Linked DNA regions of Homo sapiens. The protein of the gene in region 3 interacts with the protein of the main gene of each other region in a pairwise test. Each region holds a gene or a part of one and is shown on either strand. Other genes may lie near its edges.

Region 1 (8,399 bases), about 34 Mb from region 3:
CCCAATCTTGGCTCACTGCAACCTCCGCCTCCCAGGTTCAAGGGATTCTCCTGCCTCAGCCTCCTGAGTAGCTGGGATTACAGGCACCCGCCACCAAGCCTAGCTATTTTTTTTGTATTTTTTAGTAGAGACGGGGTTTCACCATGTTGGCCGGGCTGGTCTACAACTCCTGACTTCAGGTGATTCACCGGCCTCGGCCTCCCACACAGCTGGGATTACAGGTGTGAGCCACCGTGCCCGACCTGAATCAAGATATTATTTAAAAGAACTGTTTGATGTTATTTATTTATTCATGTCTTCAATAGGTATTTACATGTCTGTCTTCGGAGATGGTGTTAGAGGTTGTTTTTTTTTTTTTTTTGAGACCGAGTCTTGCTCTGTTGCCCAGGCTGGAGGGCAGTGGCGCGATCTCGGCTCACTGCAAGCTCCGCCTCCCGAATTCACGCCATTCTCCTGCCTCAGCCTCCTGAGTAGCTGGGACTACAGGCGCCCGCCACCACGCCCGGCTAATATTTTGTATTTTTAGTAGAGGTGGGGTTTCACCGTGTTAGCCAGGATGGTGTCGATCTCCTGACCTCGTGATTCGCCCGCCTCGGCCTCCTAAAGTGCTGGGATTACAGGCGTGAGCCACCAAGCCCGGCCGGTGATAGAGTTTTGAACAAGACAAAGCTCCTTGCAAAGCTAACCTTGGGAGGTTTGGGGAAAACCACAAAGAGGGTGACAAGATAATTTCAGATAGGGCTAAGGGATAGGAAGAAAATGAAGATGGGACATGTTAAGTAATAATAATAGATGACATTTGAACACTGTGCCAGTCACTCTGTCGATTGTTTTACATATACCTTGTGACAACCCTAAGAGGTAGGCACCGTTATTACGGACATTTTACAGGTGAAACAGGGACACAGGAAAAGTAAGTAACATGCCCAGCTGTTGAATCAAGGCAGCCCGGGACCAGAGTCCACTCTCTGAGAAATGGCATTTGGGCAGGATCGAGAATGAGGAGGAGATCCAGTGTGGCAGAGGCCCTGGGGAGGAATGGGCTGGAAGTATTCGAGAAACCCAAAAGTAAGAGTGGCCTGAGTGGCCCAGAGAGGTTGATGGGAGGCAGGAGTCAGAGCGTGTCTACCCTCGTAGGCCATTGGAGGCTTACATGTGGAAGGGACAGGTTCTGATTCCTGTTTAAAAAGAGGGCTGCTGTCCGGGCGCGGTGGCTCACGCCTGTAATCCCAGCACTTTGGGAGGCCGAGGCGGGCGGATCACGAGGTCAGGAGATCAAGACCATCCTGGCTAACACCCCGTCTCTACTAAAAATACAAAAACAAAATTAGCCCGGCATGGTGGCGGGCGCCTGTAGTCTCAGCTACTCGGGAGGCTGAGGCGAGAGAATGGCGTGAACCTGGAAGGCGGAGCTTGCAGTGAGCCGGGATTGTGCCACTGCACTCCAGCTTGGGCGACAGAGCGAGACTCCATCTCAAAAAAAAAAAAAAAAAAAAAAAAAAATGCCGGGCGCGGTGGCTCACGCCTGTAATCCCAGCACTTTGGGAGGCCGAGGCGGGCGGATCACGAGGTCAGGAGATCGAGACCATCCTGGCTAACACGGTGAAACCCCGTCCCTACTAAAAATATAAAAAATTAGCTGGGCGTGTGGGCGCCTGTAGTCCCAGCTACTCGGGAGGCTGAGGCAGGAGAATGGCGTGAACCCGGGAGGCGGAGCTTGCAGTGAGCCGAGATTGCGCCACTGCACTCCAGCCTGGGCGACAGAGCCAGACTCCGTCTCAAAAAAAAAAAAAGGTTGCTATGTGGAGAATAGATTGTGGGGATGGGGGTAGTAGTGGAAACAGAAGTGGCCTGCAGTAGTGCATGGGAAACCGGGTGACGTTGAGTGTGTGAGGAGTGGCACCTGAGAAGTGGTAAAAGAATCTCCAGGAGACTAGTATTTTCAGGGTACCCCGAATTTTACAGACAGCTCTGACAGGTTAAGCCCACAATAGCTTCGTTTGGATCAGAATTCAGGTCTCTTGAAGCACGGTTTTTGCTTTTTGATTAATTTTCCAGAGGAGGAAAAGGAGTAATAGGTATAATTTTAAACTATTAATATGATGACTGGCAAACTTGAATTATGTGACTGTGGGTCTGGCTTGGTATAATATGATTTACTTTTGTCATTATCTACTTTTGTATATACAAGCAGGCTTTTAATTAATTTTAGTTCATTTCAAATCTGTGAGCTTTTATGAATTGAGCCAGTTCCTAGAGGCTACTTTTATGGTACACTGGAAATTGTAGTTGTCAGGAATAAGATTAAGATTATTTAGTGGGTCAAAATTTTAATCCTGTTAGATTGTCCTGTGAGTTTAGTTTGCTTATTATTAATTGTGCTGCTTTGTGAGTAACAGGCAGAACGGAAGGACTGTAGTGCTGTTTAGTCACAAATCTTAGGAATTAGCTACATCACATAGCTTGGGATAAATTTTTGCCTTATAGTATGTTTATATGGAGGTACAATTTTTAAAATATCTCTTTCATTTATTTTTTTCATAACTTTTATTGGGATATAGTTCACATACCATAAAATTTACCTTTTAAAGTAGGCCATTTACAGATTTTTAGTCTATTCATTAAATTGTGCAGCCGTTATCTAATTCTATAACATTTTCACTTCCCCAGAAAGAAACTCCATATTTATTTCCCAGTTATTCTCCATTCCCCTTCCCCCTGCGTTGGCAACAACTAATTTACATTCTAAGTCTCTATGAATCTGCTTATTCTGAACATTTCATGTAAATGGAATATACAGTATGTGGCTTTGTCTGGTTTCCTTAGAACAATGTTTTCAAGGTTCATCCATGTTATGGCACGTATTAGTACTTAATTCCTTTATATTGTTGAATAGTTGTGTCAATATGCCACATTTTATCCATTTATCCATTGTTCCTTAAAATTTTTCTATTTCTGGCCAGGCGTGGTGGCTCATGCCTGTAATCCCAGCACTTTGGGAGGATGAGGTGGGCGGATCACGAGGTCAATAGTTCGAGACCAGCCTGGCCAATAGGGTGAAACCCCGTCTCTACTAAAAATACAAAAATTGCCTGGCATGGTAGTGTGCTCCTGCAGTTCCAGCTACTCGGGAGGCTGAGGCAGAAGAATTGCTTGAACCTGGGAGACGGAGGTTGTGGTGAGCCGAGATCATGCCGCTGCACTCCAGCCTGGGTGACAGAGCGACACTCCGTCTCAATTAAAAAAAAAAAAAAATTCTGTTTTGTTTTTTGTTCTTGTAAAATTTTTATTAAAACATTTAATTTTGAGGCCGGGTGCGGTGGCTCATGCCTATAATCCCAGCACTTTGGGAGGCTGAGGTGGGCAGATCACGAGGTCAGGAGATCGAGACCATCCTGGCTACGGTGAAACCCCGTCTCTACTAAAAAAAAAAATACAAAAAATTAGCCGGGCATGGTGGCGGGCACCTATAGTCCCAGCTAGTTGGGAGGCTGAGGCGGGAGAATGGCGTGAACCCAGGAGGCGGAGCTTGCAGTGAACCGAGATTGTGCCACTGCACTCCAGCCTGGGCGATAGAGCGAGACTCTGTCTCCAAAAAAAAAAAAAAAAAAAAAAAAAAAATTTTTACTTTTGAAATAATTTCAGACTCACAAGACCTTGCAAAAGTGGTACAGAGTTCTTTGTGTACTCTTTATTCAACTTCCCTGACGTTGATATCTTAACCATAGAACATTGTTGAAACCAATAAATTGACATTGAGACAATGTTATTAATTCAAGAAAGATTTTACTTGGATTTTATCAGTTTTACATGCACTCTCTGTGTAGTTCTAACAAATTGTGTCACTTGTGTAGATTAGAATAATCACCACAGTCAGGATGCCAAACTGTTTCATTACCACAAAGAACAGTCACTCTCTCTTCAAATCTAAGCTTGGGAAACACTGATCTGTTCTCTATCACTTAATGTTGCCACTTTGAGAATGTTATATAAATGGAATTATACAGTATGTCACCTTTTGTGATTCGCCTTTTTTCATGCAGCGTAATGCCCTTGAGATTCATCCATGTTGTTGCCTGTGTGAGCAGAGCATTCCTTTTTTTTTTTTTTTTTTTTTTTTTTGAGATGGAGTTTTGCTCTTGTTGCCCAGGCTGGAGTGCAGTGGCACGATCTTGGCTCACCGTAACCTCCGCTTCCTGGGTTTAAGCGATTCTCCTGACTTAGCCTCCTGAGTAGCTGGGATTACAGGCATGTGCCACCATGCCAGGCTAATTTTGTATTTTAAGTAGAGACGGGGTTTCTCCACTTTGGTCAGGCTGGTCTCGAGCTCCTGACCTCAGGTGATCCACCCGCCTTGGCATCCCAAAGTGCTGGGATTATAGGCATGAGCCACCGTGCCTGGCTGTGCTTTCCTTTTTATTGGTAACAAGTATTCCATTGTGTGGATTAACAGTTTATTCACAGGCTAAAGGATATCTGGGTATACTTTGCTTCTACTTTTTTTTTTGAGATGGCATCTTGCTCTGTCGCCCAGGCTGGAGTGCACTGGCGCAATCATGGCTCACTGCACCTGCCACCTCCCAGGTTCAAGCGATTCTCCTGGCTCAGCCTCCCAAGTAGCTGGGACTACAGGCATGTGCCACCACGCCTGGCTAATTTTTGTATTTTTAGTAGAGATGGGGTTTCACCATCTTGGTCAGGCTGGTTACGAACTCCTGGCCTCAAATGATCTGCCTGCCTTAGCCTCCCAAAGTGTTGGGATTACAGGCGTGAGCCACCGTGCCCAGCTTGGTGAGACAGTTTTGGAATGTAATGATACAAGTTTATATCCTTATTCAGTAAGCCTCAACCCTTGAATTTATACTTCCCTGTAGTATAAATTCAAGCTCATAAGCCCATGACTTTGGAATACTTCTCATGGATTACCTAATTTTCATTTCTTATTTTTTTACACATTTGTTTATTCAACAAACATTTTTGCTTACTACCTCTACAGTAGAATACAGTAAATGGACACGAAGCAAATACCTAGTGCTGCAGATAGCTAGTGCCAGGGTGTGTGTTGGATGCTAGAAGAGTAAGATAATTAAAGTAGAAGAGATTGCTTTGTGAAAAGACCATTGCAGGACAGTGTGATGAGAACTGTAAGATTTAGGTACAGTAGTGCTTAGTTTTTTTGTTTTTGTTTTGTTTTGTTTTGTTTTTTCGAGATGGAGTCTTGCTCTGTTGCCCAGGCTGGACTGCAGTGGCCTGGTCTTGGCTCACTGAGACAGGGTTTCGCCATATTGGCCAGGCTGGTCTCAAGCTCCTGACGTCATGATCTACCTGCCTTGGCCTCACAAAGCGTTGGGATTACAGGCTTGAGCCACTGCGCCTGGCCAGATTTCATTTTAATATTGTCATTTTAATGAAATAACTTTTTTTTTTTTTCTTGAGGCAGTCTTGCTCTGTCACCCAGACAGGAATGCAGTGGCATGATCTTGGCTCAGTGTAACCTCTGCCTCCTGGGTTCAGGCGCTCCTCATGCCTCAGCCTCCCAAGTAGCTGGGATTACAGGCATGCGCCACCATGCCCAGCTTATTTTCTTTGTATTTTTAGTAGAGCCTGGTCAGGAACTCCTGGCCTAAGCCTCAAGTGATCTGCCTGCCTCAGCCTTCCAAAATGCTGGGATTACAGTCATGAGCTACTGCCCCTGGCCCAGCTTTTTTTTTTTTTTTTTTTTTTTTTAAAGTAATAAAAGTAATATGGTCATGGTAAAAAATTCAGTACAGAATTCAGTATAATACAGAAGATTTAAGAAGCAAGTGTCAGCTGTGGCTCCACTAATTATTTTTAATTTAAAAATTTTTTAGCAGCTGGGCGTGGTAGCTTACGCCTGTAATCCCAGCGCTTTGGGAGGCCGAGGTGGGCAGATCACAAGGTCAGGAGATCAAGACCATCCTGACCAACATGGCGAAACCCCGTCTCTTCTAAAAATACAAAAATTAGCCAGGCGTGGTGGCATGTGCCTATAATCCCAGCTATGCAGGAGGGTGAGGCGGGAGAATTGCTTGAACCCGGGAGGCAGAGCTTGCAGTGAGCTGAGATGGCGCCACTGCACTCCAGCCTGGGCGACAGAGCGAGACTCCATCTCAAAAAAAAAAAAAAAAAAAATTTTAGCATGTTAATTTAGGGTATCTAATTGTTTTGGTGTGTTATTCTTTTACTTGTGCATGGTTTTGTTCATTTTTCAAAAATTGAGTCCTAGCATACATGTATATGCATGTATGTAAAGTGCATTGATCTTTTAAAGATCAGTGAGGATCACTAGAGGTCAGGAGTTTGAGACCAGCCTGGCCAACATGATGAAACCCCGTCTCTACTAAAAATACAGAAATTAGCTGGGAGTGGTGGCACATGCCTGTAGTCCCAGCTATTCCAGAGTCCGAGGTGGGAGAATTGCTTGAACACGGGAGATAGAGGTTGCTTTGAGCTGAGATTGCACCACTTAGTGCCAGCCTGGGCGACGCAGTGAAACTCCCTCTTAAGGATAAAACATCATTTTTAATTTTAATTTTCTTTTTTAGAGATAGGATCTTGCTTTGTTGCCTAGGCCGCTTTCACCCTCTTGGGTTTGGGTGATACCCCACCTAAGCCTCCCAAGTAGCTGGGACTGCAGGTGCCTACCACCATGCCTGGCAGTGCACTCATATTTTTTTGAGACGGAGTCTTGCTCTTTCGCTAGGCTGGTGTGCAGTGGCGCTATCTCAGCTCACTGCAACCTCCGCTTCCCCGATTCAAGCCATTCTCCTGCCTCAGCCTCCTGAGTAGCTGGGAGTACAGGCTCGTGCCACCACTCCCCAGCTAATTTTTGTATTTTTAGTAGAGACGAGGTTTCACCATGTTGGCCGGGCTGGTCTCGATCTCCTGACCTTGTGATCTGCCCGCCTCGGCTTCCCAAAGTGCTGGGATTACAGGCGTGAGCCACCACGCCTGGCCCAGTGCATTCGTCTTAATTGTACAGTTTGATGATTTTTTTTACATTTATTTATACCCCTGTAACGACCATGTAGATCAGTATATAAAACCCCTTCAATGCTCCATAAGTTTTCTCATGCCTCTCCCGAGTCTATACTCTACCACCTAGGAGCAACAACTTTTTTGATATCTATCATTATTGATTAGTTTTGTCTGTTCTTGAATTTCATATAAATGAAATCATATAGAATATACAGTCATCCCTCAGTACGCTTGGAGGATTGGTTCTGGGACACCCTCAAATAACAAAGTCTGAGGATACTCAAGTCCCTTGTAACCTTCACACATCCTCCTGTATATTTTAAATTATCTCTGGATTACTAATAATATATATACAATGTAAATACCATGTCAATGGTTGTTACATGGTGTTTTTTTAATTTGTAGTTTTTATTTTGTTATTATTTATTTACTTTTGATTGTTTTTGATTCATGATTGGTTGAACCTATGGATGCAGAGTCCACAGTTTCAGAGGGCTGACTTTATATATATATATATATTTTTTTTTAGAGACTGGGTCTTGCTTTGTTGGCTGACAGTGGCACAATCATAGCTCACTGCCACCTCAAATTCCTGGCCTCAAATGATCCTCCTGCCTCAGGCTGCTGAGTAGCTGGGACTACATGTGAGCACCACCATGCCCAGCTGATTTTAAAATTTTTTGTAGAGATGGGATCTCCCTATGTTGCCCAGGCTCAAAGATGTAGTTTTGATTGAACTACTTTACTCTCCCACAAGTGTAAAGACACTTAAGTTTGCTTCACATTTTTGCCCACACTTGGCAGTGTCATTGTAATAAATTTTACCTATTATGGGTGTGTATTGATATTTCATTATGGTTTTCAATTGCATTTTCCTGAGTAATGATGTTAAACATCATTTTTTTTTTTTTTTTGAGACGGAGTCTTTCTCTGTTGCCAGACTGGATTGCAGTGGCATGATCTCGGCTCACTGCAACCTCCACCACCTGAGTACAAGCAATTCTCCTGCCTCAGCCTCCTGAGTAGCTGGGACTACAGGTGTGTGCCACCGTGCCCAGCTAATTTTTGTATTTTTGGTAGAGATGGGGTTTCACCATGTTGGCCAGGATGGTCTTGATCTCTTGACTTCGTGATCTGCCCACCTCGGCCTCCCAAAGTGCTGGGATTACAGGCGTGAGCCACCAGGCCCAGCCAACATCTTTTCATATGTTTCTTGGTCATTTGAGTTTCCTGTTTTGTGAAGCGCCTTTTTAAGTCTTTTGCCCCCTACCCTTTAAAAAAAATATTGTGTCGTAAGTTTTTCTTACTGATTTATAAAAATTTGTAGATTTTCAGATGACTTCTTTTTCGGATGTATGTATAAGTTATGTATCTTTCTAATCATTATGGATATCATTTTG
Region 2 (8,823 bases), on a different chromosome or scaffold from region 3:
GCAGACTCCTCTACTTGCTAGCTATGCAACTCTGGGCAAGTGATTCTCCCACTCAGAGACTCAGTTTCCAAATCTGCAAAATTTAGATGATGATGGTTCCTTTATCATAGAGCTGTTGTGAGAATTAAGTGAGATAATGTTTATCAAGGGTTTAAGCACATGTTGTGACTAGAACATAGTAACATATGTCTGATAAGTGTAGCAATTTTTATTGTCTGAGATGGCAATGAATCCATCTGTCTTGTAGAATCTTGGGATCTATGCAGTTGGAAGGAGGCTTTCTGGTTTATCCATACTAGTCCAGGAGTATCTGAAGTAGTGCACATGTATGTTCCAGAAGAGGAATGGACAATAAACAACAGAGGTGGGATTCAGGTTAGACACAAGGTAGAACTTTCAAGAAGTGAGGATTAAAGGAAGAAGTCAAATTGGGAACGAAGAAGTCAAGAAGTGAGGATTGATAAACATTGAGTAGTGCAATCATATTTTTCTCCCCAAATAAATAATCTTGTAATTTGAATGGTTTAGCATGATCTTGTTTAAAGACATAAAGACCGATGAATTGGTCTCATTATCATATTTCCCATCATCTCAGTAATTATTTGAATCTTTTGCTGTTCCCTGGACTTTTAGAAATGGGTACAGACTGTCAAGTTCTCTGATGCTGGTAGATAATGGTTGGCTCCATTGTACTCAGAGAAATCGTGGACACAGAAAGATTAAGAGATTTACCCAAGGTAACATGGTAATGTTAGTGAGGTGGGATTTGAACTGCCTCAGGAGAAGGGGTAGCTATTTCTCTGAGCTGGAGGTGCTGTATCTTTGGATCACTAAGGAGAAGGTTGCATAAGAATCTTCTTAGCTCCTGCTCTAGAGTGCCTGGGTTTGCAAAGTTTAGAATCATTTCTCCCTGCTGTCCCTTTTTTCAAATGAAAGAACAATACCAATCAGGTAAAGAAACATTCTCTAGACATGGATGGCAAATTGATTTTATCTGGAATGCCAAGACCAAACTATTAGTAGTGGCTATCTAGAAACTGTGTGTTAAGAAGGATTCTGAGGGTCGGTCTGAGAAAGAGTATTGTGAAGGATCAGTGATGTCTACCATCAGTATAGCACAGAGGGCAAGGAATAATTGTGCCATAAGTTTATATTCATTAACCAGCATATTAATAGGTCCTTGTTTATGGGGTGGGCTGGCTTGCATCTGGGGAAACAGAAAGCAATACCCGGAAGGAATGAGGCACAAGATGGTTCTATTTTAATAAAGTGATGGAGGAACTGGAGTTCACGTTATATTGGAGAAGCCAGACCTAAAGCAGAAGTCACTGTGATAAGATGAAAAGGGGACAAGTGTTAGTCAGTGGAGACCCAGAAGGAGAATTAGGCTGTGAACTGCTTCAGGGAAGGGACTATGTCTGGTTTGTCTTTGAGTCCTCCGTGCCCAGGACTGTGCCTGGCCAAGATGCAAGATTGGGCATCAGTTAATGATTATTGAACTGAATATGGCCTGACTTAACATAGTAACAGGTGATTATTCCAAGATCATGAGCAAGAAGAGCTACCATTGAATGGTCACTTGCTATAAACTGGACAATTTATTAAGTCCTTTACCAGTAATATTTCATTTAATCTTCCCAACCACGATGTGATATCTCCACTTTTGCAAATGAGGAAACAAAGGCAGAGGTTAGTTATTAGCCCAAGCTCATACAGCTACAAAGTGGCAGAGCTGGGCTTCATATCCTAGTTCTCTCTAAATCCACAGGCTGGGCTTTTAACCACTTGAGTAATTGATATTTTTGAGTAAACTGTGTTTCAGACACATTCTAGAACCTGTATGTGTGTTAATTCCTTCAATCCTCACAGCTAGTTCATCTAAACATATTATTTATAATCTTTATAGAATCTTCATGAAACCCCATCTCTACTAAAAATACAAAAAAAATTAGCTGGGCCGTCGTGGCAGGCGCCTGCAATCCCAGCTACTAGTGAGGCTGAGAAAGGAGAATGGCTTGAACCTGAGAGGCGGAGGTTGCAGTGAGCTGAGATCACACCACTGCATTTCAGCCTGGGCAACAGAGCGAGACTCTGTCTCAAAAAAAAATTCTTCATAGTATTGATAAAGAAACTGTGACATAGGCAAGTGAAATCCCTCCTCCAACATTACACAGCTAGGAAATGGCAGAGCTGGAATTTGAAGCCAGGCATTCTGGATTCCAAGTCCTGAACTGATTACTGCAGACTCCCAATTTAGGAACCTCAACACCAGGTGCTTCTAAGTATGTGACTCATTGTTATCTGATTTATTTTTAAATGGTGGTCCATCCTGATATGCGTAGTATCCCACTCCATCCTCCACCCCACCAAGCAAAAACAGAAACTGTATTTTTCACAAATTTCCTTTGCTTCCTACAGGATCACCCTGGGGAAGTCACTTGGTCATCCTCAACTTCTTCATGTTTAAAACAGAGTAAGATCGAATAGCAGGTCTACGTTTTTTAACTTTTATTTTAAGTTCAGGGGTACAAGCGCAGGTTTGTTACATAGGTAGACTTGTGTCACGGGGGTTCGTCGAACAGATTATTTCATCACCCAGGTATTTAGCCTAGTACCCATTAGTTATTTCTCCTGATCCTCTCCCTCCTCCCAACTTCCACCCTCCAAAAGGCCCCAGTGTGTGTTATTCCCATCTATATGCCCATGTGTTCTCATCATTTAGCTCCCATTTATAAGTGAGAACATGTGGTATCAGGTTTTCTGTTCCTATGTTAGTTTGCTAAGGATAATGACCTCCAGCTCCACTCATGTCCCTGCAAAGGACATGATATTCTTTTCATGGCTGCGTAGTATTCCATGGTGTATATGTACCACAACTTCTTTATCCAGTCTATCACTGATGGGCATTTAGGTTGATTCCATGTCTTTGCTATTGTGAGTAGTGCTGCAGTGAACATACACATGCATGTGTCTTTATAAAAGAATGAGCAGGTCTACTTTTAGTTCTTTGAGAAATCTTCATACTGTTTTCCATAGTTGTTGTACCAATTTACATCCACACCAACAGTGTATAACTGTTCCCTTTTCACTGCATCTACACCATCTATTTTTTTTTTTTACTTTTTAATAATGGCCTTTTGGGGGTAAGGTACTATTCGGGTGACAGGTATGTAAAAGCCCAGACTTCATCACTATACAATTCATCCATGTAACCAAAAAACACTTGCACCCTTAAAGCTATTGAAATAAGATAAATAAATAAAATAGAATAAGATCAGCTTTCTCTCCCACCTCATCTGGCTACGATGGGATTTTAAAAAGGCAATGTTTTGCATATGGGAGCTCTATCAACATTTTAGGGATTAGGAGCAGGCACACAACTGGAAGATGTTGACTGATCTTGTGGGGGTAGGATCCCACCTACCTCTCTCCTGCAAGTGACTCAGTTCATACCCTAAATGTCATGACTAAGGTTAGTTTTAAAGATGCCAGTCTGCTACCTATAAGAAGCCAGCTCTAGATTGCATTTACAATGATACCAACTTCTGGGTGGGAAACGGGGGTCTAGCCCAATCAGGGAATGGGGGATTTGGGGCGCAAGGTAAGAGGGAGAGGAAGGGAAGGGGTTAGCCTAGTCTCCACTTTGCTCCATCTCCAACCTTCCCAGGCCTGACCCCCACCTCTGGGCCCTCTCCCCCGGCAACCCACATAAGAAGCCAGCAAATGCACCTCTCGTTGTTGACCAGAAGGGGTCACTGCAGAGCAAGTAGCGCTCTCAGGCACTCAAATAAGCGGACGCAGGCGTGTCGAACACACACACTTCAAACGTAGATACCCTTTGGGGCGGGTACTCATTTACTCCAAGGTTCTTTCTTCTCCTGCCCCATCTTATCCTCTCTGTTGGCCTCTTCATCTTCACCTCCTAGTTACCTCCTGTTCCCCTTCAGAGAATTTCTGGAGTTCCCATTGTTCTCCCGACCCCCCCGCCCTACCCCGCCCTCATTGGGTCCCCATTGCTATCTGCTTTAGCAAAGAGCAGGAGTTTATTCTCGCTGTGACTGGGACTCAGCACCAGGTGCTTGGAGGCATTTAAGACTGAGCGAGGCCTCCTTCCAGGAATTTACAGCCTGGAAAGTGGAAGCGGGGTTGGGGGGAGGGGGAGGGCGTTAGGTGGGAGATGGGGGAGTAACAACTCTGCTAAGATTAAAAGGCTTCCAGGAAGGCAAGGGCTGAGGGGTCCCGCCACGATCTCTTTTTTTTATAATGAAAACCCTGGGGGAAAACAAGAGTCATTCTAACCAGATCTTCTGTGTCTGGGGTTGATTTGGGATTCTAAACCTCCACTTGCTTGGGATTACGATTGAACTGCGAGGCGGTAAGGAGATGGGGAGGAGAGACCGAAAAGTAACTATCCCCCTGCTAATCCTCGAGATTTTCCTCTCCAACCCTCCCACTAAGCGCTTTCTTTTCCAAAACGTACTCCTTTCCCGAGACTAGCGGCATTAGGAAAAGTGGCTGCAGGCGGATTCCCCAGGAGTGGATGGGGGTGGGGTGGGGTGAGATGGGAACTCTTTCCTCTGGACGGGGTTGGCGGCGGGGACGCTGGGCAGGCCGGCTGTGAGACACAAAAGAGATACCCTTGACAGCTCCGCATGCACAGATGTAACGCTGCGCCCCTTGGCGGGCGGGGGCCCTGCTCGGCAGATGGCGAGAAGCCGAATTGGTGAGGGATTGTCTATCAAATGGCACTTTCTGGGTGGTGGAGACCTCGCTAACCCCCGGCGCAAAGAGGAACGCAGGGCACCCTCTGTACCGGCCTAGGCCGTGTCTCCCAAAAGTGAGGGTCTGGGGGAGGCCGGCTGGGGTGGATAGATTAAGTTTTTTACGAGCCCCCCCAACCCCCCCCCCCCCCCCACGCAGAAGATCAGCTACAAGACTTGCGAAGGGGCTGGAAAGAAAGGTGGCCTGGCCCAAAGGGGGCACCCAGGAAAGGGCTGAGGAAGGCCAGCGATGATGGGAGAGGAGAGGGGCCTGGGAAGCAGGATCTCCTGCCTGGCGCAGATTGGGGTGCCAGGATGGCTTCTCAGAGGGATCAGCGCTGCAACTCGGTCGCCGCGGGGCCCTGGTGACAGGCGCACGCCCCGCCCTTTCTCCTCCCAAGACCTGCGGGCTTTTGTTATGCAGATGGCGGCAGGAGGCTGAGCCTGAGGAGGAGGGGGTTGGTGGGGAGGAGGAGAGACGGAGAGGGGGGAGGAAAGTGCAGCTCGCGCGACCAGCCTCCTCTTCCAACGTCACATTGTGCGAGAGACAAAACCCGGGCGCGCCGGAGCTCACACGCGCACGCACACACATCCGACCCCGTCGCCTCTTCTCTCCTGGTGCTGCCCAGAAAGCCAGCCCTCCCTTCCCTTCTTGGGGCGCAGAGGCTCAGCCAGCTCAGAGCGCAGCCTGGAGCCGACCCAGAAGGGCGAAGAAAGCCCAGCGGACGAGCCTCCTTTCTCTGCTGCCTGCCCGGGCTGGGGCGTCCCATCCCCCGCCCTGAACTCCGATCTCTCCCACCCCACCCCTCTCTGGGTTTCACCCGGACAGAGCCGGGAGCTGGGTGTCGCCCCCGTTTGGAATCCACGTTTCAGCACTTTGGACAGCGCCCCGGACGCCCCGGCCCCTTTGGGTTGGCGATGGCGAGCGTTCAGCAAGGCGAGAAGCAGCTTTTTGAGAAGTTCTGGCGAGGAACCTTCAAAGCGGTGGCCACCCCCCGTCCCGAGAGCATCATTGTCGCCAGTATCACGGCCCGCAAGCCGCTGCCAAGGTAATGATCTCCTTCTTAGAAGGGGGGATCCTGAAGGTCCTCCTTTCTGGCCTGTGCCCCAGAGCCCGGAGGGGTGGATGCAGGCAGCCGGGCCAGGGCGCCTGTCTTTTCCCGTCACTACTCGGCGGCTCCCGCTGAAACATGGGAACTCATTGCTTGTGTGAGGTGGAAGATGGTGAGAAGGGACAGGAATTCTTTGGGGGAAAGCAACGCTTATTGGACCCCCGTAGCTCCTATTCAAGAGGTTTTGCTACCTGAGGGTGGGCGGTGCAGATGGGGTACGACTTGACTGAAAAACTTTTCTTGGTGTCACAGAGTCCAGAGGGCAGGTGGGCCAAGGAATGGTGGATTTGAGATGTTTGGGGGGTGTTGTACCAGAAAAGGAGAACTGAGCCAGCTCAAGCAGCGTTCAGAGATAGCACACATTTCCATCCTCGGCTCGGAAACTAGCGAGCTTTGAACATTTTTGACAAAAGCCCATATGCTGTTCCCTCAAATACACCCAAAACAGCACCCTCCTCCACGCCTTTCTGGCGGCTGCTGCCGCTGCTGCTGAATTCTCTCCTCTCCAGCATCCAAAACCAAGACTCTGAGCTCAGGAGTCAGGGAGGAGCCTTCCAAGATCGTGAAGATGATCTTGGAAGAGTTTTATTTTGTTTTTTTTTGTTTTTTTTTTTTTTTTCCAAAAAGAATCTGATTGCTTTGAACTCAGGGATGAGAACCGATCCTTGGATGGTGGTAGACATGGTGCTGATGGAAGGAAGAATAAGGGAAGAAATGAAAGAAACAGGGGAACAGGAGGTGGGGTGAGAGGGAGAGGAGGTTGGGGGAAAATGGAAGCATTCCAAGACAGAGAAAAATCCAATTCTTTTCATAAATCATTCAATTTAGAGGAGTTTAAGAATGAAGGGAAGAAGGCTGTGCTCTCTGTCAGGGAAAATCAAGGTAGTATGAAAACTCATCTTTTGCTGGTGTTGGATGAGTGGTTTAGTAGGAGAAAAGAAAGAAGTGGACCAGGGGGACCACTTGGAGGATTTATTAATCCTGGCAGTCTGCATTAGGGAGCAGATTGAAAACATGTCTGCAAAAGTGCTTAGGACAGACTGAACGTCTGTTCTGGCACAACTGATTCTGAACTTTCCAGTGAGTGTGAGGTGGAAGACGTATGGGAAATTATGTCTGAAGAATCAAAGCCAGATTGGAGAAGTTTTCCTCTTCACTGTCTTATTGAGGATCATACAGGTCTTTAGAGAAATAGGTGTCCCATTTAGGAATGGGTGGCCAAGCATCACAACAGGCCAGTAGGGTGTAGCAGGCTTCAAGCTAAAGCAGCACCAGCCAGTGTTTGCAGACGGGAAGGAGGGGACACCCACCCACCCACTGACACAGGCTGGAGAAGGGGAACAATAATACCAAATGCCATTAAAGGCTGATGCTTCTCTGCTCCGAAGGAGGTTCTGTGTATAGAGTTTTGACGTCAGTGGTTTTTATCTTCCTGGGTTTCTGCTATCTATTCCACCTTTGGAACGTACCTACTGTTGGCTAATCAGGTGCTGCACTGGCCAAAGAAAATGCCCTTGTAGAAGGAACTAGAGGAAATTTCACAGGAAACTAGAAGTATGGCATTTAGTCCAGAGTCTTCCATCTATTTTAGGGGTGCAGGGAGAGGAAAGCGGATTCTTGGTGGTGTTTTGATTCAGGAAAGCACACCTATTATCTGCCTTGCTTGGTACTTTCCACTTTTGTCTGTCTCTCTGTTACTGTCCTGCCCTTTTCTTGGTCATATTTGCAATCACATGAATGGCCCACAAGGTCTTTCAACCCTCATCCTTTCTGCAGCTTTTTGCTAATTCTAATGTAATCCTGAGACTTTTATAATACTCCACTCCCCCTCTGCAACCAGTATCATTTCACTCTTGGTGCCTTTTAATGTCGTGGGTCTCCTTTGCCCTAGAAACCACCCCTGAGGTGAAAGCCTGAACCATAAGCCCTGGATTTATGTCACGCTAGGAGAATCCTGTGTAATACTTCTGTAATAGGCGTGGCCTCTCTGTAGAACAGATTCCGGTTTTATAACTGTTACTCCTGGTTTGGGGTAGAGAGTGAGAAGGGAACATTTGTTTCCAAGTCCTCAGGAAAGGTTGGATTGGAGTTGTCTTTTAACAGACTGGATAAAACCTGAATCATCCCCATTCTCACCCAAGCCAGCCACATCCAGTGACATTCAATTTCCACTTCCTTTTCAACATTCTACACTTACTTAAGGGTGAAAGTACCATGTTTCCAAAGCTGAGTTCTCAAGAGGAAAGAAGACAGAGGCATTGGCACAATATCAGCTGGGTTTGGGTGGCTTCCTCTAGAGGCAATCTGGGGACTTGGTCTCATCAGAAATGTCGTTTAGTTCCATGAGTCAAGCCCAGATCACAGTCGGCAAACCAGCACATGTAGCAGTCTGCAGGGGGATGGCAGGGAGTGGGTGGAGGAACCACTAGTCAGTCCTGTTGGTGTCACACTTAATATTTGTTTATAGATGAAGGCCACCCCTCTGAATAAACTTCCTCAGGATATTTTAAGTCTATCTCTCAAGGTAATTTAGTACCAGGATAGAAACATATATTCAATTCATTGATTTCATAGCAATATGCATACATCATGCAACTGCAATCTAAGCAACCCCCTGCTTAGTCTCTCTTTCTCCTCTACCCCTCTGTGGGGCATACTTGATGAGGCAATAGCTTTATAATGTATCAAATTGCAACCAGATGTCTGCCTCAAATGTCAGAACAGTAGAGCAGAGTGGGAAGCAGTATATCATAGTGGTTAAGAGCTCAGACTTGAGCATGAGACAACCTGGATTCCTGTCCTGGTTCTATCATTTACTAGCTGTGTATCCTGAACAAATAGTTTTACCACACTGAGCTTGAAAATAGAAATAATAACAGTAACCCCTCAGACAACAGGTTGTAAGGATTTAGTTAGGTAAAGCTCTACCCCTATGTGTGGTGCATGGTGTT
Region 3 (6,460 bases):
CTATAATAAAATCCACAGAAAGCTGTTAAAATCTTTCCTATTTTTTTTTGACTCAACTTTCCATTCCCTGAAATCACTCACAAGCTGAGTTTGTTAATAGGCTCTCAATATTTTATTTCTTATATTCTGGCCTTGTTTTTAGTATTTCTTAAGGTGATTTTAATAATAATTAATTGTATATGTTTTACTGTACTAGACTTAGTAAAACATAAGAAAGACGTATAACATAGTTGAACAACTTTAAGTTGCTCTAAGAAGTTTCCTATGTGAGGCTGGGTGCCATGGCTCACGCTTATAATCCCAGCACTTTGGGAGACCGAGATGGGCGTATCACTTGAGATCAGGAGTTCAAGACCAGCCTGGCCAACCAACCCCATCTCTACTAAAATACAAACATTAGCCGGGCATGGTGGCACATGCCTGTAATCCCAGCTACTCAGGAGGCTGAGGAAGGAGAATTGCTTGAACACAAAGGTGGAGGTTGCAGTGAGCCAAGATCGCACCACTGCACTCCAGCCTGGGTGACAGAGCGAGACTCCAGCTCTCAAAACAAAAAAAAACAAACAAAAAAAAAAACAAAAAGTCTCCTATGTGAGTTAGAACAAAGGATTGACATCTTTGACAATAATTAGACTGGCATAAGACTACCACATGTTATAAAGTGCTAAACTGCATATCATAGAATAAATGATCCGAGAGTTTAGATGAGGCAAATAACAGAGTAATCAAAAATGGCTTCAGGTAGTCGGTAAAATTTGAACAGGTAGAATCAGCTAGGAAAAAGATATTCCATATAGAGTGAATATCCTAGGCAAATGCAGAGAATGAGGAGGGAGTTTGTAAAGGACAGAGTGATTTGTAGGCCTCTTATCTCACACTCTTGAAACTGATTTTGGGGGTCTACCCTCAGTGCAGTGTTCAGAAATAAGCATTTTTTAAAAGTTACCTGTCTTATCTGCACAATGAATTTTCAGAATTATCCTGCTAGGTGATGGAAGGTTTAGACATTTTCCTGTGTCAAATCTGCCCAACTGTCATTGTTGTTGCTGAACTCCTAAATGTCTTTATTGGTGATGGGTATGGGAAGGATGGGCGTGAAGTCCCCTAATCTGAGATTGTGTTATTTTAGTCCCTGATGCTTCCTGCGTTGATGAAGTTGTATAGGAATTTTTCCACCATACATGATACATGATCATATCTAAGATGTCAGCATGTTCATAAAGAGGATTATTTTTGTAAAACTATTAAAAGTTTTGCTTTTCTCGAGCACTTTCTCATCTTTGAATTCAAATTATTCTCTTTTAAAGCATCATTCTTTGTTTTATACTAAAAATTACCAGATAATTGCTGTTAAAACCTACTTGGTATTTCATACAACATCAAGTTATTGCTACATATTTGGGTTTAATTTTTCAAGGTAAAAGTTCTTATTGAAAGCCTTTTATGTTTTGCTGTTCTCCTTTCCCTACTGTGAAATACTTGTCTCTGATACAAGTAGATTCTTTGTGACCTCTTCCTGGCAATAGTGCCCTGCGTAAATGAGGACCATTTGCATCTATCTATCTTTTTGCTCTGTTCAAACATGTTTAGTGCAGACTCCAAAGTCAGATTACTTGGGTTCATTGGTTTAGGCTAAGTAATTTATTTTTTTTTTTGAGACGAGAGTCTCGTTCTGTCACCCAGGCTGGAGGGCAGTGGCGCGATCTCGGCTCGTTGCAACCTCTGCCTTGCGGGTTCAAGCGATTCTTTTGCCTCGGCCTCCCAAGTAGCTGGGATTACAGGCCCAGGCCACCACACCTGGCTATTTTTGTATTTTTAGTAGGGACAGGGTTACGCCATGTTGGCCGGGCTGGTCTCAAACTCCCGACCTCAGGTGATCCACCTGCCTTGGCCTCCCAAAATGCTGGGATTACAGGCATGAGCCACCACGTCCCACCTTGGCTAAGTAATTTATAACTATCTCACCTGTCTTTCCCCATCTACTAAGTGGAGAAAGTAAGAATACCTGCTTTGTTAAGATTATTGGTAGTTTGAGTAAAATAGTATATGGAAACCACTATGTGTGGGACATAGTAGTTGATACTCATAGTTTTTTAGTTATTACTGATCACTGGGACTGTTTGGCATCTAGTGTCTTTTTAGGTATCATTTTTACCATCTCTTTTCATATTTTATTCCAACAAAGGCTATGGATAGGACTAGTGTAGACGTGGAATCACTAGACTTGGCACTGTGATTTTTTGTTGTTGTTGAGATGGAGTCTTGCTCTGTCACCCAGGCTGGAGTGCAGTAATGCGATCTGGGCTCACTGCAGCCTCCGCCTCCCAGGTTCAAGTGATTCTCCTGCCTCAGCCTCCCGAGTAGCTGGGACTACAGGCACACGCCACCACTCTCAGCTAATTTTTTGTATTTTAAGTAGAGACGGGGGTTTCACTATGTTGGCTAGGCTGGTCTTGAACTCCTGACCTCAAGTGATCTGCCTGCCTTGGCCTCCCAAAGTGCTGGGATTACAGGCGTGAGTCACCGTGCCCAGTCTTTTTATATCATTTTAAGTTTATTAAAACATTAAGTAGAATGTTCAAAGTGGACATTATTTTAGAACCATTTTTTGTTTAACCCTCCTTAACTATATTTCTAAAACTGAACAGTCATATTTTTTATTTTCCTGAAAGTATTACTTATTCAGGTTCTTGGTAGTGCCTCAGATCCTAATTTTGAATATGGGTTGAGTGAGATAATTATGTAAAAGTGCTGTGTCACCTGTAAAGAACCAAATAAATGTAATTTGTTGAATTTTAGATGTTGGAAGTATGGAAGATTCCATGTTTATTCTGATTCCATAATATGTTTGGTTTTCCGATTGATTTATTATTTACCTTTCTTATAATGAAGTTGGGTATGGGAATGGAGAAGGTAGTAAACAGTTATGGCTAATCAAGATTTATTAGTGTGAGCATCTTTGTCTTTTTTTATTTCCCCTTGTTGGTTGAATAAGCTAACTCAGTATGAGTAGATTTTTAGAAGTGGTTATTTAAATTCATATTAATAATTGAGTAGTTCTCTTATCTAAGTCAGGTGTTGGCAAACTGTTGCCGATAGGCCAAATCTGGCCGGTAGCCTGTACAACCAGCAAGCTATGGATGGTTTTTACATTCTAAAAAGAAAAGAACTGCCACAAAGATTGCATGGACCTGCAGTACCCCAGATAGTCACCATCTGGCCCCTATTCTAAGCCATTTAAAATTTAGATAATACATTTCTTTCACTTTTTAAAGCTGTTATCTATGTATTATTTTTTATATTAAAATACCTTTTATGAATTGGAGAAACTCTGTGTTGTCTCTGAGATGAGAGTAGCCTGTAAGAAATTATTTTAGCCTTCTGACCCTCTGCTATTTGTTTTTCACCCATCTTCTTGTTTTAATGCCCTTATCAACTATGGTAGTGCTCTGTAATTTGTCAGAAAACTGACTCCTCTGTCATGGGTATATTCGTCTATATATCTTCAGCTATCAAGAGCTTAATATTTATCCTATTCTTTAATTTGGGTTTTTGGGTTTCCCAACATATTTTGCTCCTCAAATTAATATTTTTCAGATCCTCAAAAGAAAGATTCAGAGACCAAGACTTAGCATCATGTGACAGAGACAGGAGTTCAAGAGACAGATCACCTCGTGACAGAGATCGGAAAGATAAGAAGCGGTCCTATGAGAGTGCTAATGGCAGATCAGAAGACAGGAGGAGCTCTGAAGAGCGCGAAGCAGGGGAGATCTAACTAGCTGTGTACATTTCTTCAGTCCTTAAGCTTCCTACGGAGTTACGTACTATTGTTTAGTTCACAGCTGTTCAGGGTGACAGTGAGCAGATCCAGACACCAGATCCAGCTAGGCTAGATGTACAGTATCTAACTTGATCTGAACTGAACCTGTTTTCCTTGATGATGCCTAAAACTACATCCATAGTTTCTGGTGAACCTGTAATACAGTTCTGAAAGTACAGTTTTATATAATAAGATGCTGATCTCTTTATTCTTTCAAGTAAGAGTGCTAGTGAACAAATTGTGTTACTTGCCTTGGGATTTTTTGAACGTTTGTAAAATGCTGTCTTCCTAGTCCAAACAGCTGCAGCTTTGGGCATTTTTCTTTTTAATTATTCTTCCTCTGACTTTGTATCCCTTAATACCTACACTCTCCAATTGTAAGAGAAAGGGGGCAGGGAAGCAATATAGCTTCCATTCTAAGGCTGTATTCCCGTTATGAATTACTAGCTGATTACAGTTCAGAGCATTGATCCTGGAATGTGTGCTGGAGAAATTTAAAATACTGGGGTTTTTTGTTTAATGGTGCCTATTTAGAGTTGGAAGTTGAACAGCTGTTGCATTACATACTTTTGCTTTTTTATTGAAATTTTGAAATCAAACGTCTTGATTTTTCTGTTCTGTTGAATTGCTATGTTCAGGATGTTCTAGGGGGTGGGGGCAGGGACTCTTTTCGTAATAAGCACTTGTTTTATTTTGTGTGTGTGGAGTATAAAGGCTACACCCTTATTGTAAAAAAATAATAATAATAAAATGAAAGAAACAATCACCACCACCATTATTAAACTGTAACTTGTCTAGTAAATTGTCACTAGAACTATTTGCTGTGGGCATTTCCTCTATTCTGTTACGTCATTAACAGTGCCTTACTGTGCAAGGCACCAAAGGACATAAATACGTACTTGCAAAGATTCCAGATGAGCTGTTCATGTGGGCCCCTTGCTGACTATATTCCAGCCACTTCAGGGTTGTTTGTAATGACCGTTATAGAGAAGGGCTCGACCTGCAGAAGAAACTGGGGTGTTTTTATTCTCATTCAACAAACCCAAATAAAAACAGTATATGTAACCAACATAATGAGACTTAAGTTTCTGCCTTGAAGAGTTGTATATCCGTTAGTAACTTAAACTGTAATTGGCAGGTATCACTTGTGATTCTGGAAATTCTGAGGAACACAGATTCCTTAAGTAATGAAATTAGTATCTGTGGGTATCATTAACTAAGGTCACCTTTCAAGAACTGTTAATGTCCTTTGTCCCCAAGTTTGACAGATTTGATGTCAGAGGCATGTGGGCCTCTGTGAAGGTGCTGAGAGAATGGGAAACTAAGGCCATTCTAAGTGATACCAGATTACGTTAAAAACCCTCATCAAGTTCCCAATTTACCAAGCTATGCCTCATTAACTGAGGGTTTTCTGCTGTATTTGGTTCCACACATGCAATTTATATGGCATTTAATCTGAGAGACCCATCTGCCTCAGTGGCCCATTTCCCTTTTATTTTTGGTTGCTAAGAAATGTTTTGTATCTCCTTTGTTCCGGGTAGTCTGTGCTGTTCTAAATCCTTACAAGCACTTCAGATTTCGTACATTGGGGTTCGGAGTAAGATCAAAAGGACTAGCTGGTTGGTGTGAGGAAGAATGTCTGGGACCTGGCCCATTATAATAGTATATCTGGACTTAGATTTTGAACTCTAAAGCATATGTACAGTTGGAATGGAACACTTGTAGAAGTAACACAGGTCTATATATCAATGGTTACTGCAGCTGTGGTTTCTAGATGGTATAGGCTGCCCCAACATGAACAGGGCATAAAGCGCACCATCACTGTGGGGCTGCGTGCCACAGCGGACCACTTCAACCGCATGGCTCTTTACATGATTGATGCCACTGAATTAGAATAAAATCTCAAATCTTAATATCACTTTCTCATACACAATTTTTGGTCTTTCTGTGTTGGTGACTGGTAGAAAGCATAAGTAAGTATATTGTATTTGCAAAAAACTTTTGTCCCTCTGGGGAGTGTTTTGCTAAGTTTTTACCTTCAGTAAGGTTTCCTTCATTTTGCTGTCATCAAGTATTACCCTAAAGCTCCTTTGCTGAGCTTATCAACACCAACTAAAACTAAGGAAAAAAGCCTCCTTAAATAGGTATGTTTTTTATTTTTTTGAGACGGAGTTTCACTCTTGTTGCCCAGGCTGGAGTGCAATGGTGCAATCTCAGCTCACTGCAACTTCCGCCTCCTGGGTTCAAGCAATTCTTCTGCCTCAGCCTCCCGAGTAGCTGGGATTATAGACGTGCACCACCACGTCCGGCTAATTTTTGTATTTTTAGTAGAGACGGGGTTTCGCCGTGTTGCCCAGGCTGGTCTTGAACTGCTGGCCTCAGGTGATAGGCCCGCCTCGGCCTCCCAAAGTGCTGGGAGTATAAGGCATGAGCAACCCCTCCCTGCCCTACCCCTGCCAGGCTTGTTTTTTTTTTTTTTTTTTTTGTTTTTTGTTTTTTTTTTGTTTTTTTTTTTGTTTTTTTTTTTTTTGAGACGGAGTCTCGCTCTGTCGCCCAGGCCGGACTGCGGACTGCAGTGGCGCAATCTCGGCTCACTGCAAGCTCCGCTTCCCGGGTTCACGCCATTCTCCTGCCTCAGCC
Region 4 (8,399 bases), on a different chromosome or scaffold from region 3:
TTGAGAGAAAGTAGTGTGGCCCCAAGCTTTTTTTCCTGTTTAGTCCACTGTTCACATGCTGAAATATTTCTGTTCTTGTTTTTATGCTCTCTTGATTTGTAGTACTTCACCTTCCTCCACATCATCACATAGCTAAATCTTTCTCACACTTAAGACCAGTTCATCCTGCAGGCCTCTGATAGCAAAGAAAAAAAAAGTTCAAGTAGTACCTTTTTTTTTTTAAGCCTTGTTGATTTATCCCCAGCTGGAACAAATCTCTGTCCTCCAAATTCCCATATCACTTTATCTCTTAGGATTCCAGTATAGGTTTTTAGTCCATTACTAAACTTAAAGACTCTTTGAAGTTTGAATCTTCGTCAGAGATTTCTTTTTATTTTTAAAACCTTCAGAACAGTGTCTGGCACATGGTACATAATTAGTGGAGAGAAGTGCATTAGAAAGCTCCAATCCAGAAATCTGTAGGATGATGGGGAAGCTGGACAGCCCTTTGTTGTAGTCTAGTCTTTCATCAAGCGTCTATCAGGACCCACTTGTTGAGTTGTGAAAGAAATTGAGTGAGCCAATGCTGGGAATTTTTAAATAATAGAATAGAAAATATCTGCCAGGCATGATGATGGCTCACGACTGTAATCCCAGCACTTTGGGAAGCCGAAGTGGGAGAATCCTTTGAGCTCAGGAGTTTGAGACCAGCCTGGGTAGCATAGGGAGACCCCCTCTCTTAAAAGAAAAAAAAGAATAGAAAATACCAAAGTGCATCTTGTGTTGTATAAAGGTAAATGCTGTTTCATGAAACTTTCATTTCAGTTACATGCTTTATACATGTGTGCACTGAGTTGTGATAATGAAATGTGTTTCTTACTAAGGGTTGTGGTCAAAAAAGTTAAAAAGCTACTGTTCTAGGCTTTGCCTGGTAGTGATTATCAACTGTGATAATCCTATGGCTTTTCATATGCTTACACTAGTTGAGTTTCTGAAGAGGTTTTAGCTTTGGAGTTTGTGTAGGTCCACATAGAATGGGTTCCTAGTAAGTGGTTGGCTAAGTCTCAGCTTTTGCACCTTGGAATAGTGGGGCAAAGAGAATTGCACTGAGAAGAGAATGCACTAGGAAGAGAATTTTCATGCTAGCCAGAATAAACACTTATTATTTGTTTCTCTCTCTTTGAGGAAAAACCATTCAAAACTTTGTGTTAAGAGCAAGAGCTAGACAGACTAAATCTGGCTTAGTTTGTCATAATCTTGGGCAAAGAGGCACTTTGGGAAAGACTATCGAATTGTATTGCAGTCTTGCTAACTGAAGCTCACAGTAGTAGGAACATATGACTTTACTGAAGCCAGTTGCTTATAGCATTAACCATTAACAGTATCAATATCATGATACAGGCTAAATCACTCTGTCATTAATGTGAGAGAGAATTGCTGCTAGATTTGAAGCTGCTCTTCAAATCTTGATACTCTTCAAAGTATAAATTTAAATATTGCTAAATTGGTTCATTTGTATTACCAGAATAAACTAGTTAAGAAGAAAATCTGTACGTTACATATATTAGTCATTATGTGCTTCAAGTTATATTTAGTCTTGTAAAGATGTAAACTTCTGGATATTAGTCAAGGAAAAAATCTCATATAAGAAGGAAATTTGGAGTTGGGGAGGCGTTGAAACCTAAAAGACATTCCTTTCATGATCCTTATTTTTTAAAATCAATTTATTGAGAGATACTTTAGAAACAAAGTATAATAATTTTAAATGTGTATTTTGATGAGTTTTGACAAATTTGTACACCTGTGCAACTGCTACCACAATGAAGATATAAAACATTTTCATCACCCTACAATGTTCCTAAGGCTCCATGCCAGTCAACCTCCCTCTTTCCTGTCTCCCTGTATTCTCCACTCCCAAGGAACCACTGATCCATTTTCTGTCTCTAGATTACTGATGTCTTTTGGAGATTTTATATAAATGGAATCATATATATTCGTTTACATCATAACCTTAATTTTATTAGTTTATAGCCATAAATGTATTGTGTATTAGAGACAAGATAGAATTTAGGGAAGCCTGTTAGTGCCCCTAACAGACTCACAGTCTGGCTGAAAACCTGATTTTCTATTCTATACCCAGAATCTCTGAGGAGCAGACTTAGTCAACCAATTCCAAAGAGACTGGTGTAAAAATCAGAAAACCGGTTTGTCATGTTGCTGATTATATTTGCTCCCTGTTGGCCAATCTATATGTAAATCCAAATTATAGCTAGAAATTTACCTAGCGAGCATTCCATTAGATCAAGGGCAGTGCTTTGGAGAACCATATGGCCACAAGTCCTCTTGCTGTGATGACATAGCCTGTTATTTATGGCTCATAGATTCTTATGTTGTATCCATTTTGGTTATGAGTAATGGGGTTGATTAATTTTTATTTTGATTAAATTTTGTTATATTTTTCCTAACATTCCAACATTCATTTGGGAAATAAGAATTTCTCAAAATTCTTATTCTAGAAATAAGAATTTTCAAGTGTGCAGTGAAATCAAAGGAATTTGAAAATAAACACCTGTATACCTGCCAGTTAGGGTCTATTAACATCTTACTATAATTGCCTTACCAGATATTTCTCCACCCATTCATCCATTTTTTGATGCATTTCAAAGTAAATTTTAGATATCAATACACTTCTTTCTAAGTACTTGGACATATAGTTGCACATATTTTGGTTTCTTCTTTCACACTGTATTGAGACACCTTGCAAATGATTAATTCCACCAGCATGTGTGGATTTATGGAGAGTGGTACTGTACTTTGCCACGATAATGAGCAGCTCAGTTAGGTCACGTCATTTTATTATTCAGATGTTGGAATTTATGAGGGCCTAGTGAAAAATCAGAGAGAAAGACCTATCTACATTTTTGTTTATATATCTGTCCTCCCTCCCATATTTCCAAGATGAATTGCCGATTGCTAACTTATATCATTTTAATTTTTTAATGAAGTCTTTATTAAAGGTTCTCAGATATCATTCAGTTTATCTAATTGTATCCTTATTTTTAAAAGTGGATCTTCAACTCTTAAAGTCTATGAGAAGGGTAAATTTTGCCTACCATATGTAGTGGACCTGAGTAACATGTTTGGTGGGAAGCAATTACGTGTTACAACTTAAAGAAGCTTTATTCTCTAAAGTATATGTGCAAACCTGAAAATCAGTGTTAGGTATGCCTTGTATCAAAGTGATGTAGCTTAACGAGTATCTCTTAGGTGCAAGTATTGCTCTGACAGTATTGAAAGGTAAGGTTGCCAGTATACTGAAAGCATTTTAGAAACGTGAAAATAGCATTATGTTGTTATGATTGTGCCATGTAATCCCAGTTAAAAATGATACTGAATATAAGCATTTCCTATTCTCCTATCCTGTTTTCTTGCAAATAAAGTACAGTGATAAATTATCCAGGTTAATTGTCTGGTAAGGCCTTTATTGACAATCTCACTTTAGTTTCTTTCCCCACCTTTCTAACAGGAGTGTACCTCACAGCCTTCTAGGATCTCCAGAGTGGACAGGAATCTCACTTGGAGGGACCATGGAGCAGTATACAGCAAACAGCAATAGTTCGACAGAGCAGATTGTTGTCCAGGCAGGACAGATTCAGCAGCAGGTATGGAAGCAAAACTGCTTTAAACATTACAGCAATGAAACTGATAACAGCACCACTCAATTGGTTGGTCTATTGCCCTGGGGAATTATTTGAAAGATACCAGATCTTGTGAGATATTGGGTCTGATGGCTTGTGCTGAAATGCCATGTCTAGCCCATGACCACTTAGAATCTACTCTTCATGGGTGCCTGGTTATAGTAAATTGCCTCTTTTATCTCATTTTAAGTAAAAACATCTAGTCTGGTTTTCAGATGGAAATTTGGACTTTAAAATTTTTCTGGATTCTATTTGGTCTTTTTCTCTTCTTGTTTGAGCTAACTTGTGATTTAGTAAGTCTTTGGCCACAACAGACAAACCAACATAGCTTCCAATAAATCTTCTGTTTTTTGATTTGGTCTGCCACATTTTTTATTCAGAAAAGCTCTGGTTTAACATTAGGATAATATTTAGACAGCCATTCTTATGGATAAGACATACTAGAAAGGAATTCCCTGCTGCTGGTTTATTCCTAATTAATAGATTGCTTTCTTGAATTTATACACAGGTTACATTTTCTGATGCTTTATGCTTGGGTTTATTATAGTAAAATTTCACTTTTTTCCCCACCCCAGAAGAAAAAAATGTATTATGTTTCTATTTGACCTTAGGCCAAGATTGATATTTTGGAAATACTTTGTTTTCAAAATGGAATTTAGCTAATATAGAAAAGTAGTAGGGAAGGGAAAGGTAGTATTGATGATGAGTTTTTCCCGTCTAATGATCAAAGACGAACTCCCCTGATAGCTTTCCCTTCCATACAGCTGCTGTGGCTCTGGCAGTTTCCTTCAACTGCCTTTTTAGAGGAAGGGATTCCACAAAGGGCCCTCCATTCACACCAGTGCCCTGGAGGGTGGGTTTTTATTCTTTCAGAATTTGCCATTAGTGGATGTAAAAATAAGGTTGAATCATTGAAAACATGGCTCTTAAAGCAGTCCAGTTGGGTAGAAATAATCTTAGTTTTGAAGCTGGGCATGGTGCTGCATGCCTGTAATCCCAGCTACTCTGGAGGCTGAGACAGGAAGGTTGGCTTAAGCCCAGGAATTCAAGACCAGCCTGGGCAAAACAGCAAGACCCCATCTCAAAATAAGTACATAAATAAAGTTTAAAAAAAAAAGAATCTTAGTTTTGGGACATGAGAGCATTGACGTCATGAAGATGATTTCGGTTCATAGTGATTAATTACTCCTCCTTTCTTGGTGATTGCATTTAAGCCCAGAATTTTTTATGGTAGTTTCAGGGCTATTAAAACCTAATCATTTTTTTCTTGTGAACTCATCTGAGGAGATAAAAAGGGCATTAAACAATTGTGTAAGTAGAAGTGTCAGATTCCTGTTTCTGGAGGGAAAGATTGCATTACAAATCTTTGTGTTAATGATGACAACTGTTTTGAGTTTTTGAGTCAAATTTTTGAGGTCCACTCTGGAGACAAAGGGCTAATATCTTTAATCCTACTACCTTCAACAAAACAGCTTCAATATAGGGAGTCTGTACATTTTGAAAGTCCTTCAGGCTTCCGTCTCTCTCCTCCAAGAGGTAAGGTGATCTGTGTCTTGAACTACACATTTCCTTCCTGACATATTTCAAGCTCTTCCTGTTCCTGTTCTCAGCAGCAGGGTGGTGTCACTGCTGTGCAGTTGCAGACTGAGGCCCAGGTGGCATCCGCCTCAGGCCAGCAAGTCCAGACCCTCCAGGTAGTGGTACCCTCTCTGATTCTCTGTGAGCACTGCATGAACTTCTCCTCTCCTCATGTCTGGTGCTGTTTGTGTTAGGATCTCCAGTAGGAATGGCAAAGTCAGTTGCATGTCTTTGATGCTGCTAACTTGTCTTTGAGGCTTATAAGATGCCAGTTTCCTAATATTTCATGCCAAGTCATATAGAGACCCCGTATCAACTTTCTGAGAATTGGATTTGACTAGCATGTTTCTTTGAGAATGCCTGGAAAAGAAATGGTATAAGTGACAGGAAGAAATTCTTATAAGTGACATTAGAATTTATTCAGGGCTCGGCCGGGCGCGGTGGCTCACGCCTGTAATCCCAGCACTTTGGGAGGCCGAGGCAGGCGGATCACGAGGTCAGGAGATCGAGACCATCCTGGCAAACATGGTGAAACCCTGTCTCTACTAAAAATACAAAAAAATTAGCCGGGCATGGTGGCGGGCACCTGTAGTCCCAGCTACTTGGGAGGCTGGAGCAGGAGAATGGCGTGAACCCAGGAGGCAGAGCTTGCAGTGAGCAGAGATTGCGCCACTGCACTCCAGCCTGGGTGACAGAGCGAGACTCCGTCTCAAAAAAAAAAAAAAGAATTTATTCAGGGCTCACACTCTGATCCAATTAATTGCATGGTAAAAATTTTGTGTATTTGTGTTACAATGGAGAAGGAAATATATACATATACAGACACACATAAACTAGGCTAGGCTGTGCTTTATTTTTATTCAAGGGGCAACTCAACTGAAAAATAATCATTGCACTTGGCAAGGTTTATCTAAGCACTGAATCTTGTTAATCTCTTGTTAACTGCTATTGTTTCCACTACCTTTCCTGGGGGAATAGTGACCTGTCTTATTACTAGATCTGCAAAGATTACCCCAGATACCTCTTGGTTAGGCAGAAGCAGGATGTGCTTTCTGTAAGTCTTAGGTGTTAAAGCCACTGTGATAATTCTTGGTTAATCAATACAGTTCTTTAGCATCGTGTATGGCTAAGTATCCTAAATTGGGTTCTAATTTGGCCAGTTCCTATAAAACACAGGAGTAGCAGCACTAGTCTACTCTGTGTATGTAGGTTACTTTTATTAAAATAACTCTATTTTTGAGAAATTGGCAAGATTTGGGTACCCTACTTTTTCCCTCCATTGAATTAGAAATGATTCAAAGTAGAATCTAGAATGTAGAACTGGCATCTCACTTTATTGCTAGTGCTGCTAAGCATCCAGCAGATAACTACCTCTTATTGTCATCACTTTATCCTTTCAATCCCACCCCTACCCCTGCCACCAATAGTGTTTGGTAATGATGTACAGCCAACTTTGAACATAAATTAAGCCGAAAGAAACTGAGCTTGTAGGCATTCCAAAATTGTGTTCAAATCTCACAGTCCAACAGCTTGTTAATGTTTTTCATGCTTGCTTCATCTTACTCATATATAAAACAGTATTTTGGATTGTCATTAACCCCTTGTGGAATAGGAATGTAACATGCTCTTAACTGTATGGCTTCTTGTTTGATGCATGTGTCTTTGTAACATTTTTCTGTTGTAAATACAGTGAGCTCTTTGGAGTCTCAAATCATTTATCATGTGCACGAATAGCACATCAATTGGGGAGGAAATTAAGATGATGAATAGATAGAAAATTATTAATAGCTGTATCTTAAAACTTGTGTTTCCTACTTACATAGATTTTATTTAAAAGAAGTGGAAACACTTTATGGAAATAATAGAAACCTTTCCTCTAGGGATCTGATTATTTTGGGAGAATTTTAAATAGTTATTTTGGTTATTCTTGCTATATGTATTCTGAGAAATCTTTCTTGATACAGAATATGCAAGCATTTGGTGTAGCAAAGGGGATTTGATTTGGAATGGGGAAATAAGGGAAAGAGATAGCATGAGAGAGTCAGGCTGTAAAGTCCTTAAAAAAGTAAAGTAAAGGTTCTCAATGGACAGTTTAACAAAACTTAGGATTTCAATGTTCCTGGTGATTCTAATACATTAGTGGTGGTGGCAGTGGCGGCGGTGGTGGTGGTGATTGTAGGAGGACCTTACTATCTAACCTACTCATCTAGGACAGAATGATCTGTTAACTAATTGCTGTTACTTGCACATACTTTCATTAAGTGTGAATATTTCAGTCATGAATATTCTGTTCTAAGTAATTTCTGTCAAAGATAGAGTCTGAAAATGAAAATTTTGGACTATTCCATGGATCATTACAGTTTACTTCTAAAGCACTTTTAAAGTGCTTCCAGAAAGCATTCTATTAGGTATTTTTGTATTGGGACTTAAGATGTGACAGAGCACTTGTAGTGACCTGGCTCCTACAGTAGTCTGTTTACTCATAGGAGCTTGAAATTTGTACACTTGACTGCTCTGTGTAATTTCAATATTTGTTGTTGCTTCTGATAAAGCTAAAATAACCATGTGGATATTATAGAGGCCAGTGAGGAATTCCACCATGGAGACTGCAAACTGACCAGAAAGTGCTTTTAAGAAATCTTTAGTAGTGAGTTTAAACAACAAACATATCTAGAATTCACAGAGTAAAATGAGCAGGATAAAGGTATACATTTGACATTTCATTTTAGCTTGAGAGACTGTAGGGAAAAAAGGGTCATCCTCTACATAAGCTTCCAGAGCTGCTTGCTACCCAGCCTCCTAGAGTCATTGCTGGGTACAGTTTGATTTACCTTCTTCACTTTATTTAGAATTTGTACTCAACCACCATCACCACCATCACCTTTCCCTCTCATTGCCTTCTCTCCAGCCTTCACTACAGACCATTCCTGGATTGGTTTAAACAGGCAACTAACCTTGCCATTATGATTAAATGTTTGTCATGGATTTAGCCCGTGTTTGGTGACAAATGCCTTATATCTATTGAGACTTCTCAAAGACTCTGGATATTCTCCATTATGTCTGACCTTAAAGTATTGAGCTTGGCATTTAGTAACAGGATTCATAGATATTTAAAGATAACTTGAGGACTTGAGACATATATTT

The links.
Region 1: the proteins of LUC7L2 (region 3) and SRPK2 interact in binary tests that used the Homo sapiens proteins (3 or more experiments, as listed by UniProt).
Region 2: the proteins of LUC7L2 (region 3) and SRRM4 interact in binary tests that used the Homo sapiens proteins (3 or more experiments, as listed by UniProt).
Region 4: the proteins of LUC7L2 (region 3) and NFYA interact in binary tests that used the Homo sapiens proteins (3 or more experiments, as listed by UniProt).

What each region holds. Positions count from the first base shown.
Region 1 is NC_000007.14:105,378,276-105,386,674, reverse strand, and holds part of SRPK2 (SRSF protein kinase 2), read left to right. Parts: intron 1-8,399. UniProt on the Homo sapiens protein: Serine/arginine-rich protein-specific kinase which specifically phosphorylates its substrates at serine residues located in regions rich in arginine/serine dipeptides, known as RS domains and is involved in the phosphorylation of SR splicing factors and the regulation of splicing.
Region 2 is NC_000012.12:118,976,205-118,985,027, forward strand, and holds the start of SRRM4 (serine/arginine repetitive matrix protein 4), read left to right. Parts: upstream 1-5,336; 5' UTR 5,337-5,678; coding exon 5,679-5,809; intron 5,810-8,823. UniProt on the Homo sapiens protein: Splicing factor specifically required for neural cell differentiation.
Region 3 is NC_000007.14:139,418,566-139,425,025, forward strand, and holds the end of LUC7L2 (putative RNA-binding protein Luc7-like 2), read left to right. Parts: intron 1-3,597; coding exon 3,598-3,775; 3' UTR 3,776-4,889; downstream 4,890-6,460. Other genes in the region: FMC1-LUC7L2 readthrough protein, read left to right, coding at 3,598-3,775. UniProt on the Homo sapiens protein: May bind to RNA via its Arg/Ser-rich domain.
Region 4 is NC_000006.12:41,075,524-41,083,922, forward strand, and holds part of NFYA (nuclear transcription factor Y subunit alpha), read left to right. Parts: exon of another isoform or gene 1-175; intron 176-3,505; 5' UTR 3,506-3,566; coding exon 3,567-3,641; intron 3,642-5,287; coding exon 5,288-5,374; intron 5,375-8,399. UniProt on the Homo sapiens protein: Component of the sequence-specific heterotrimeric transcription factor (NF-Y) which specifically recognizes a 5'-CCAAT-3' box motif found in the promoters of its target genes.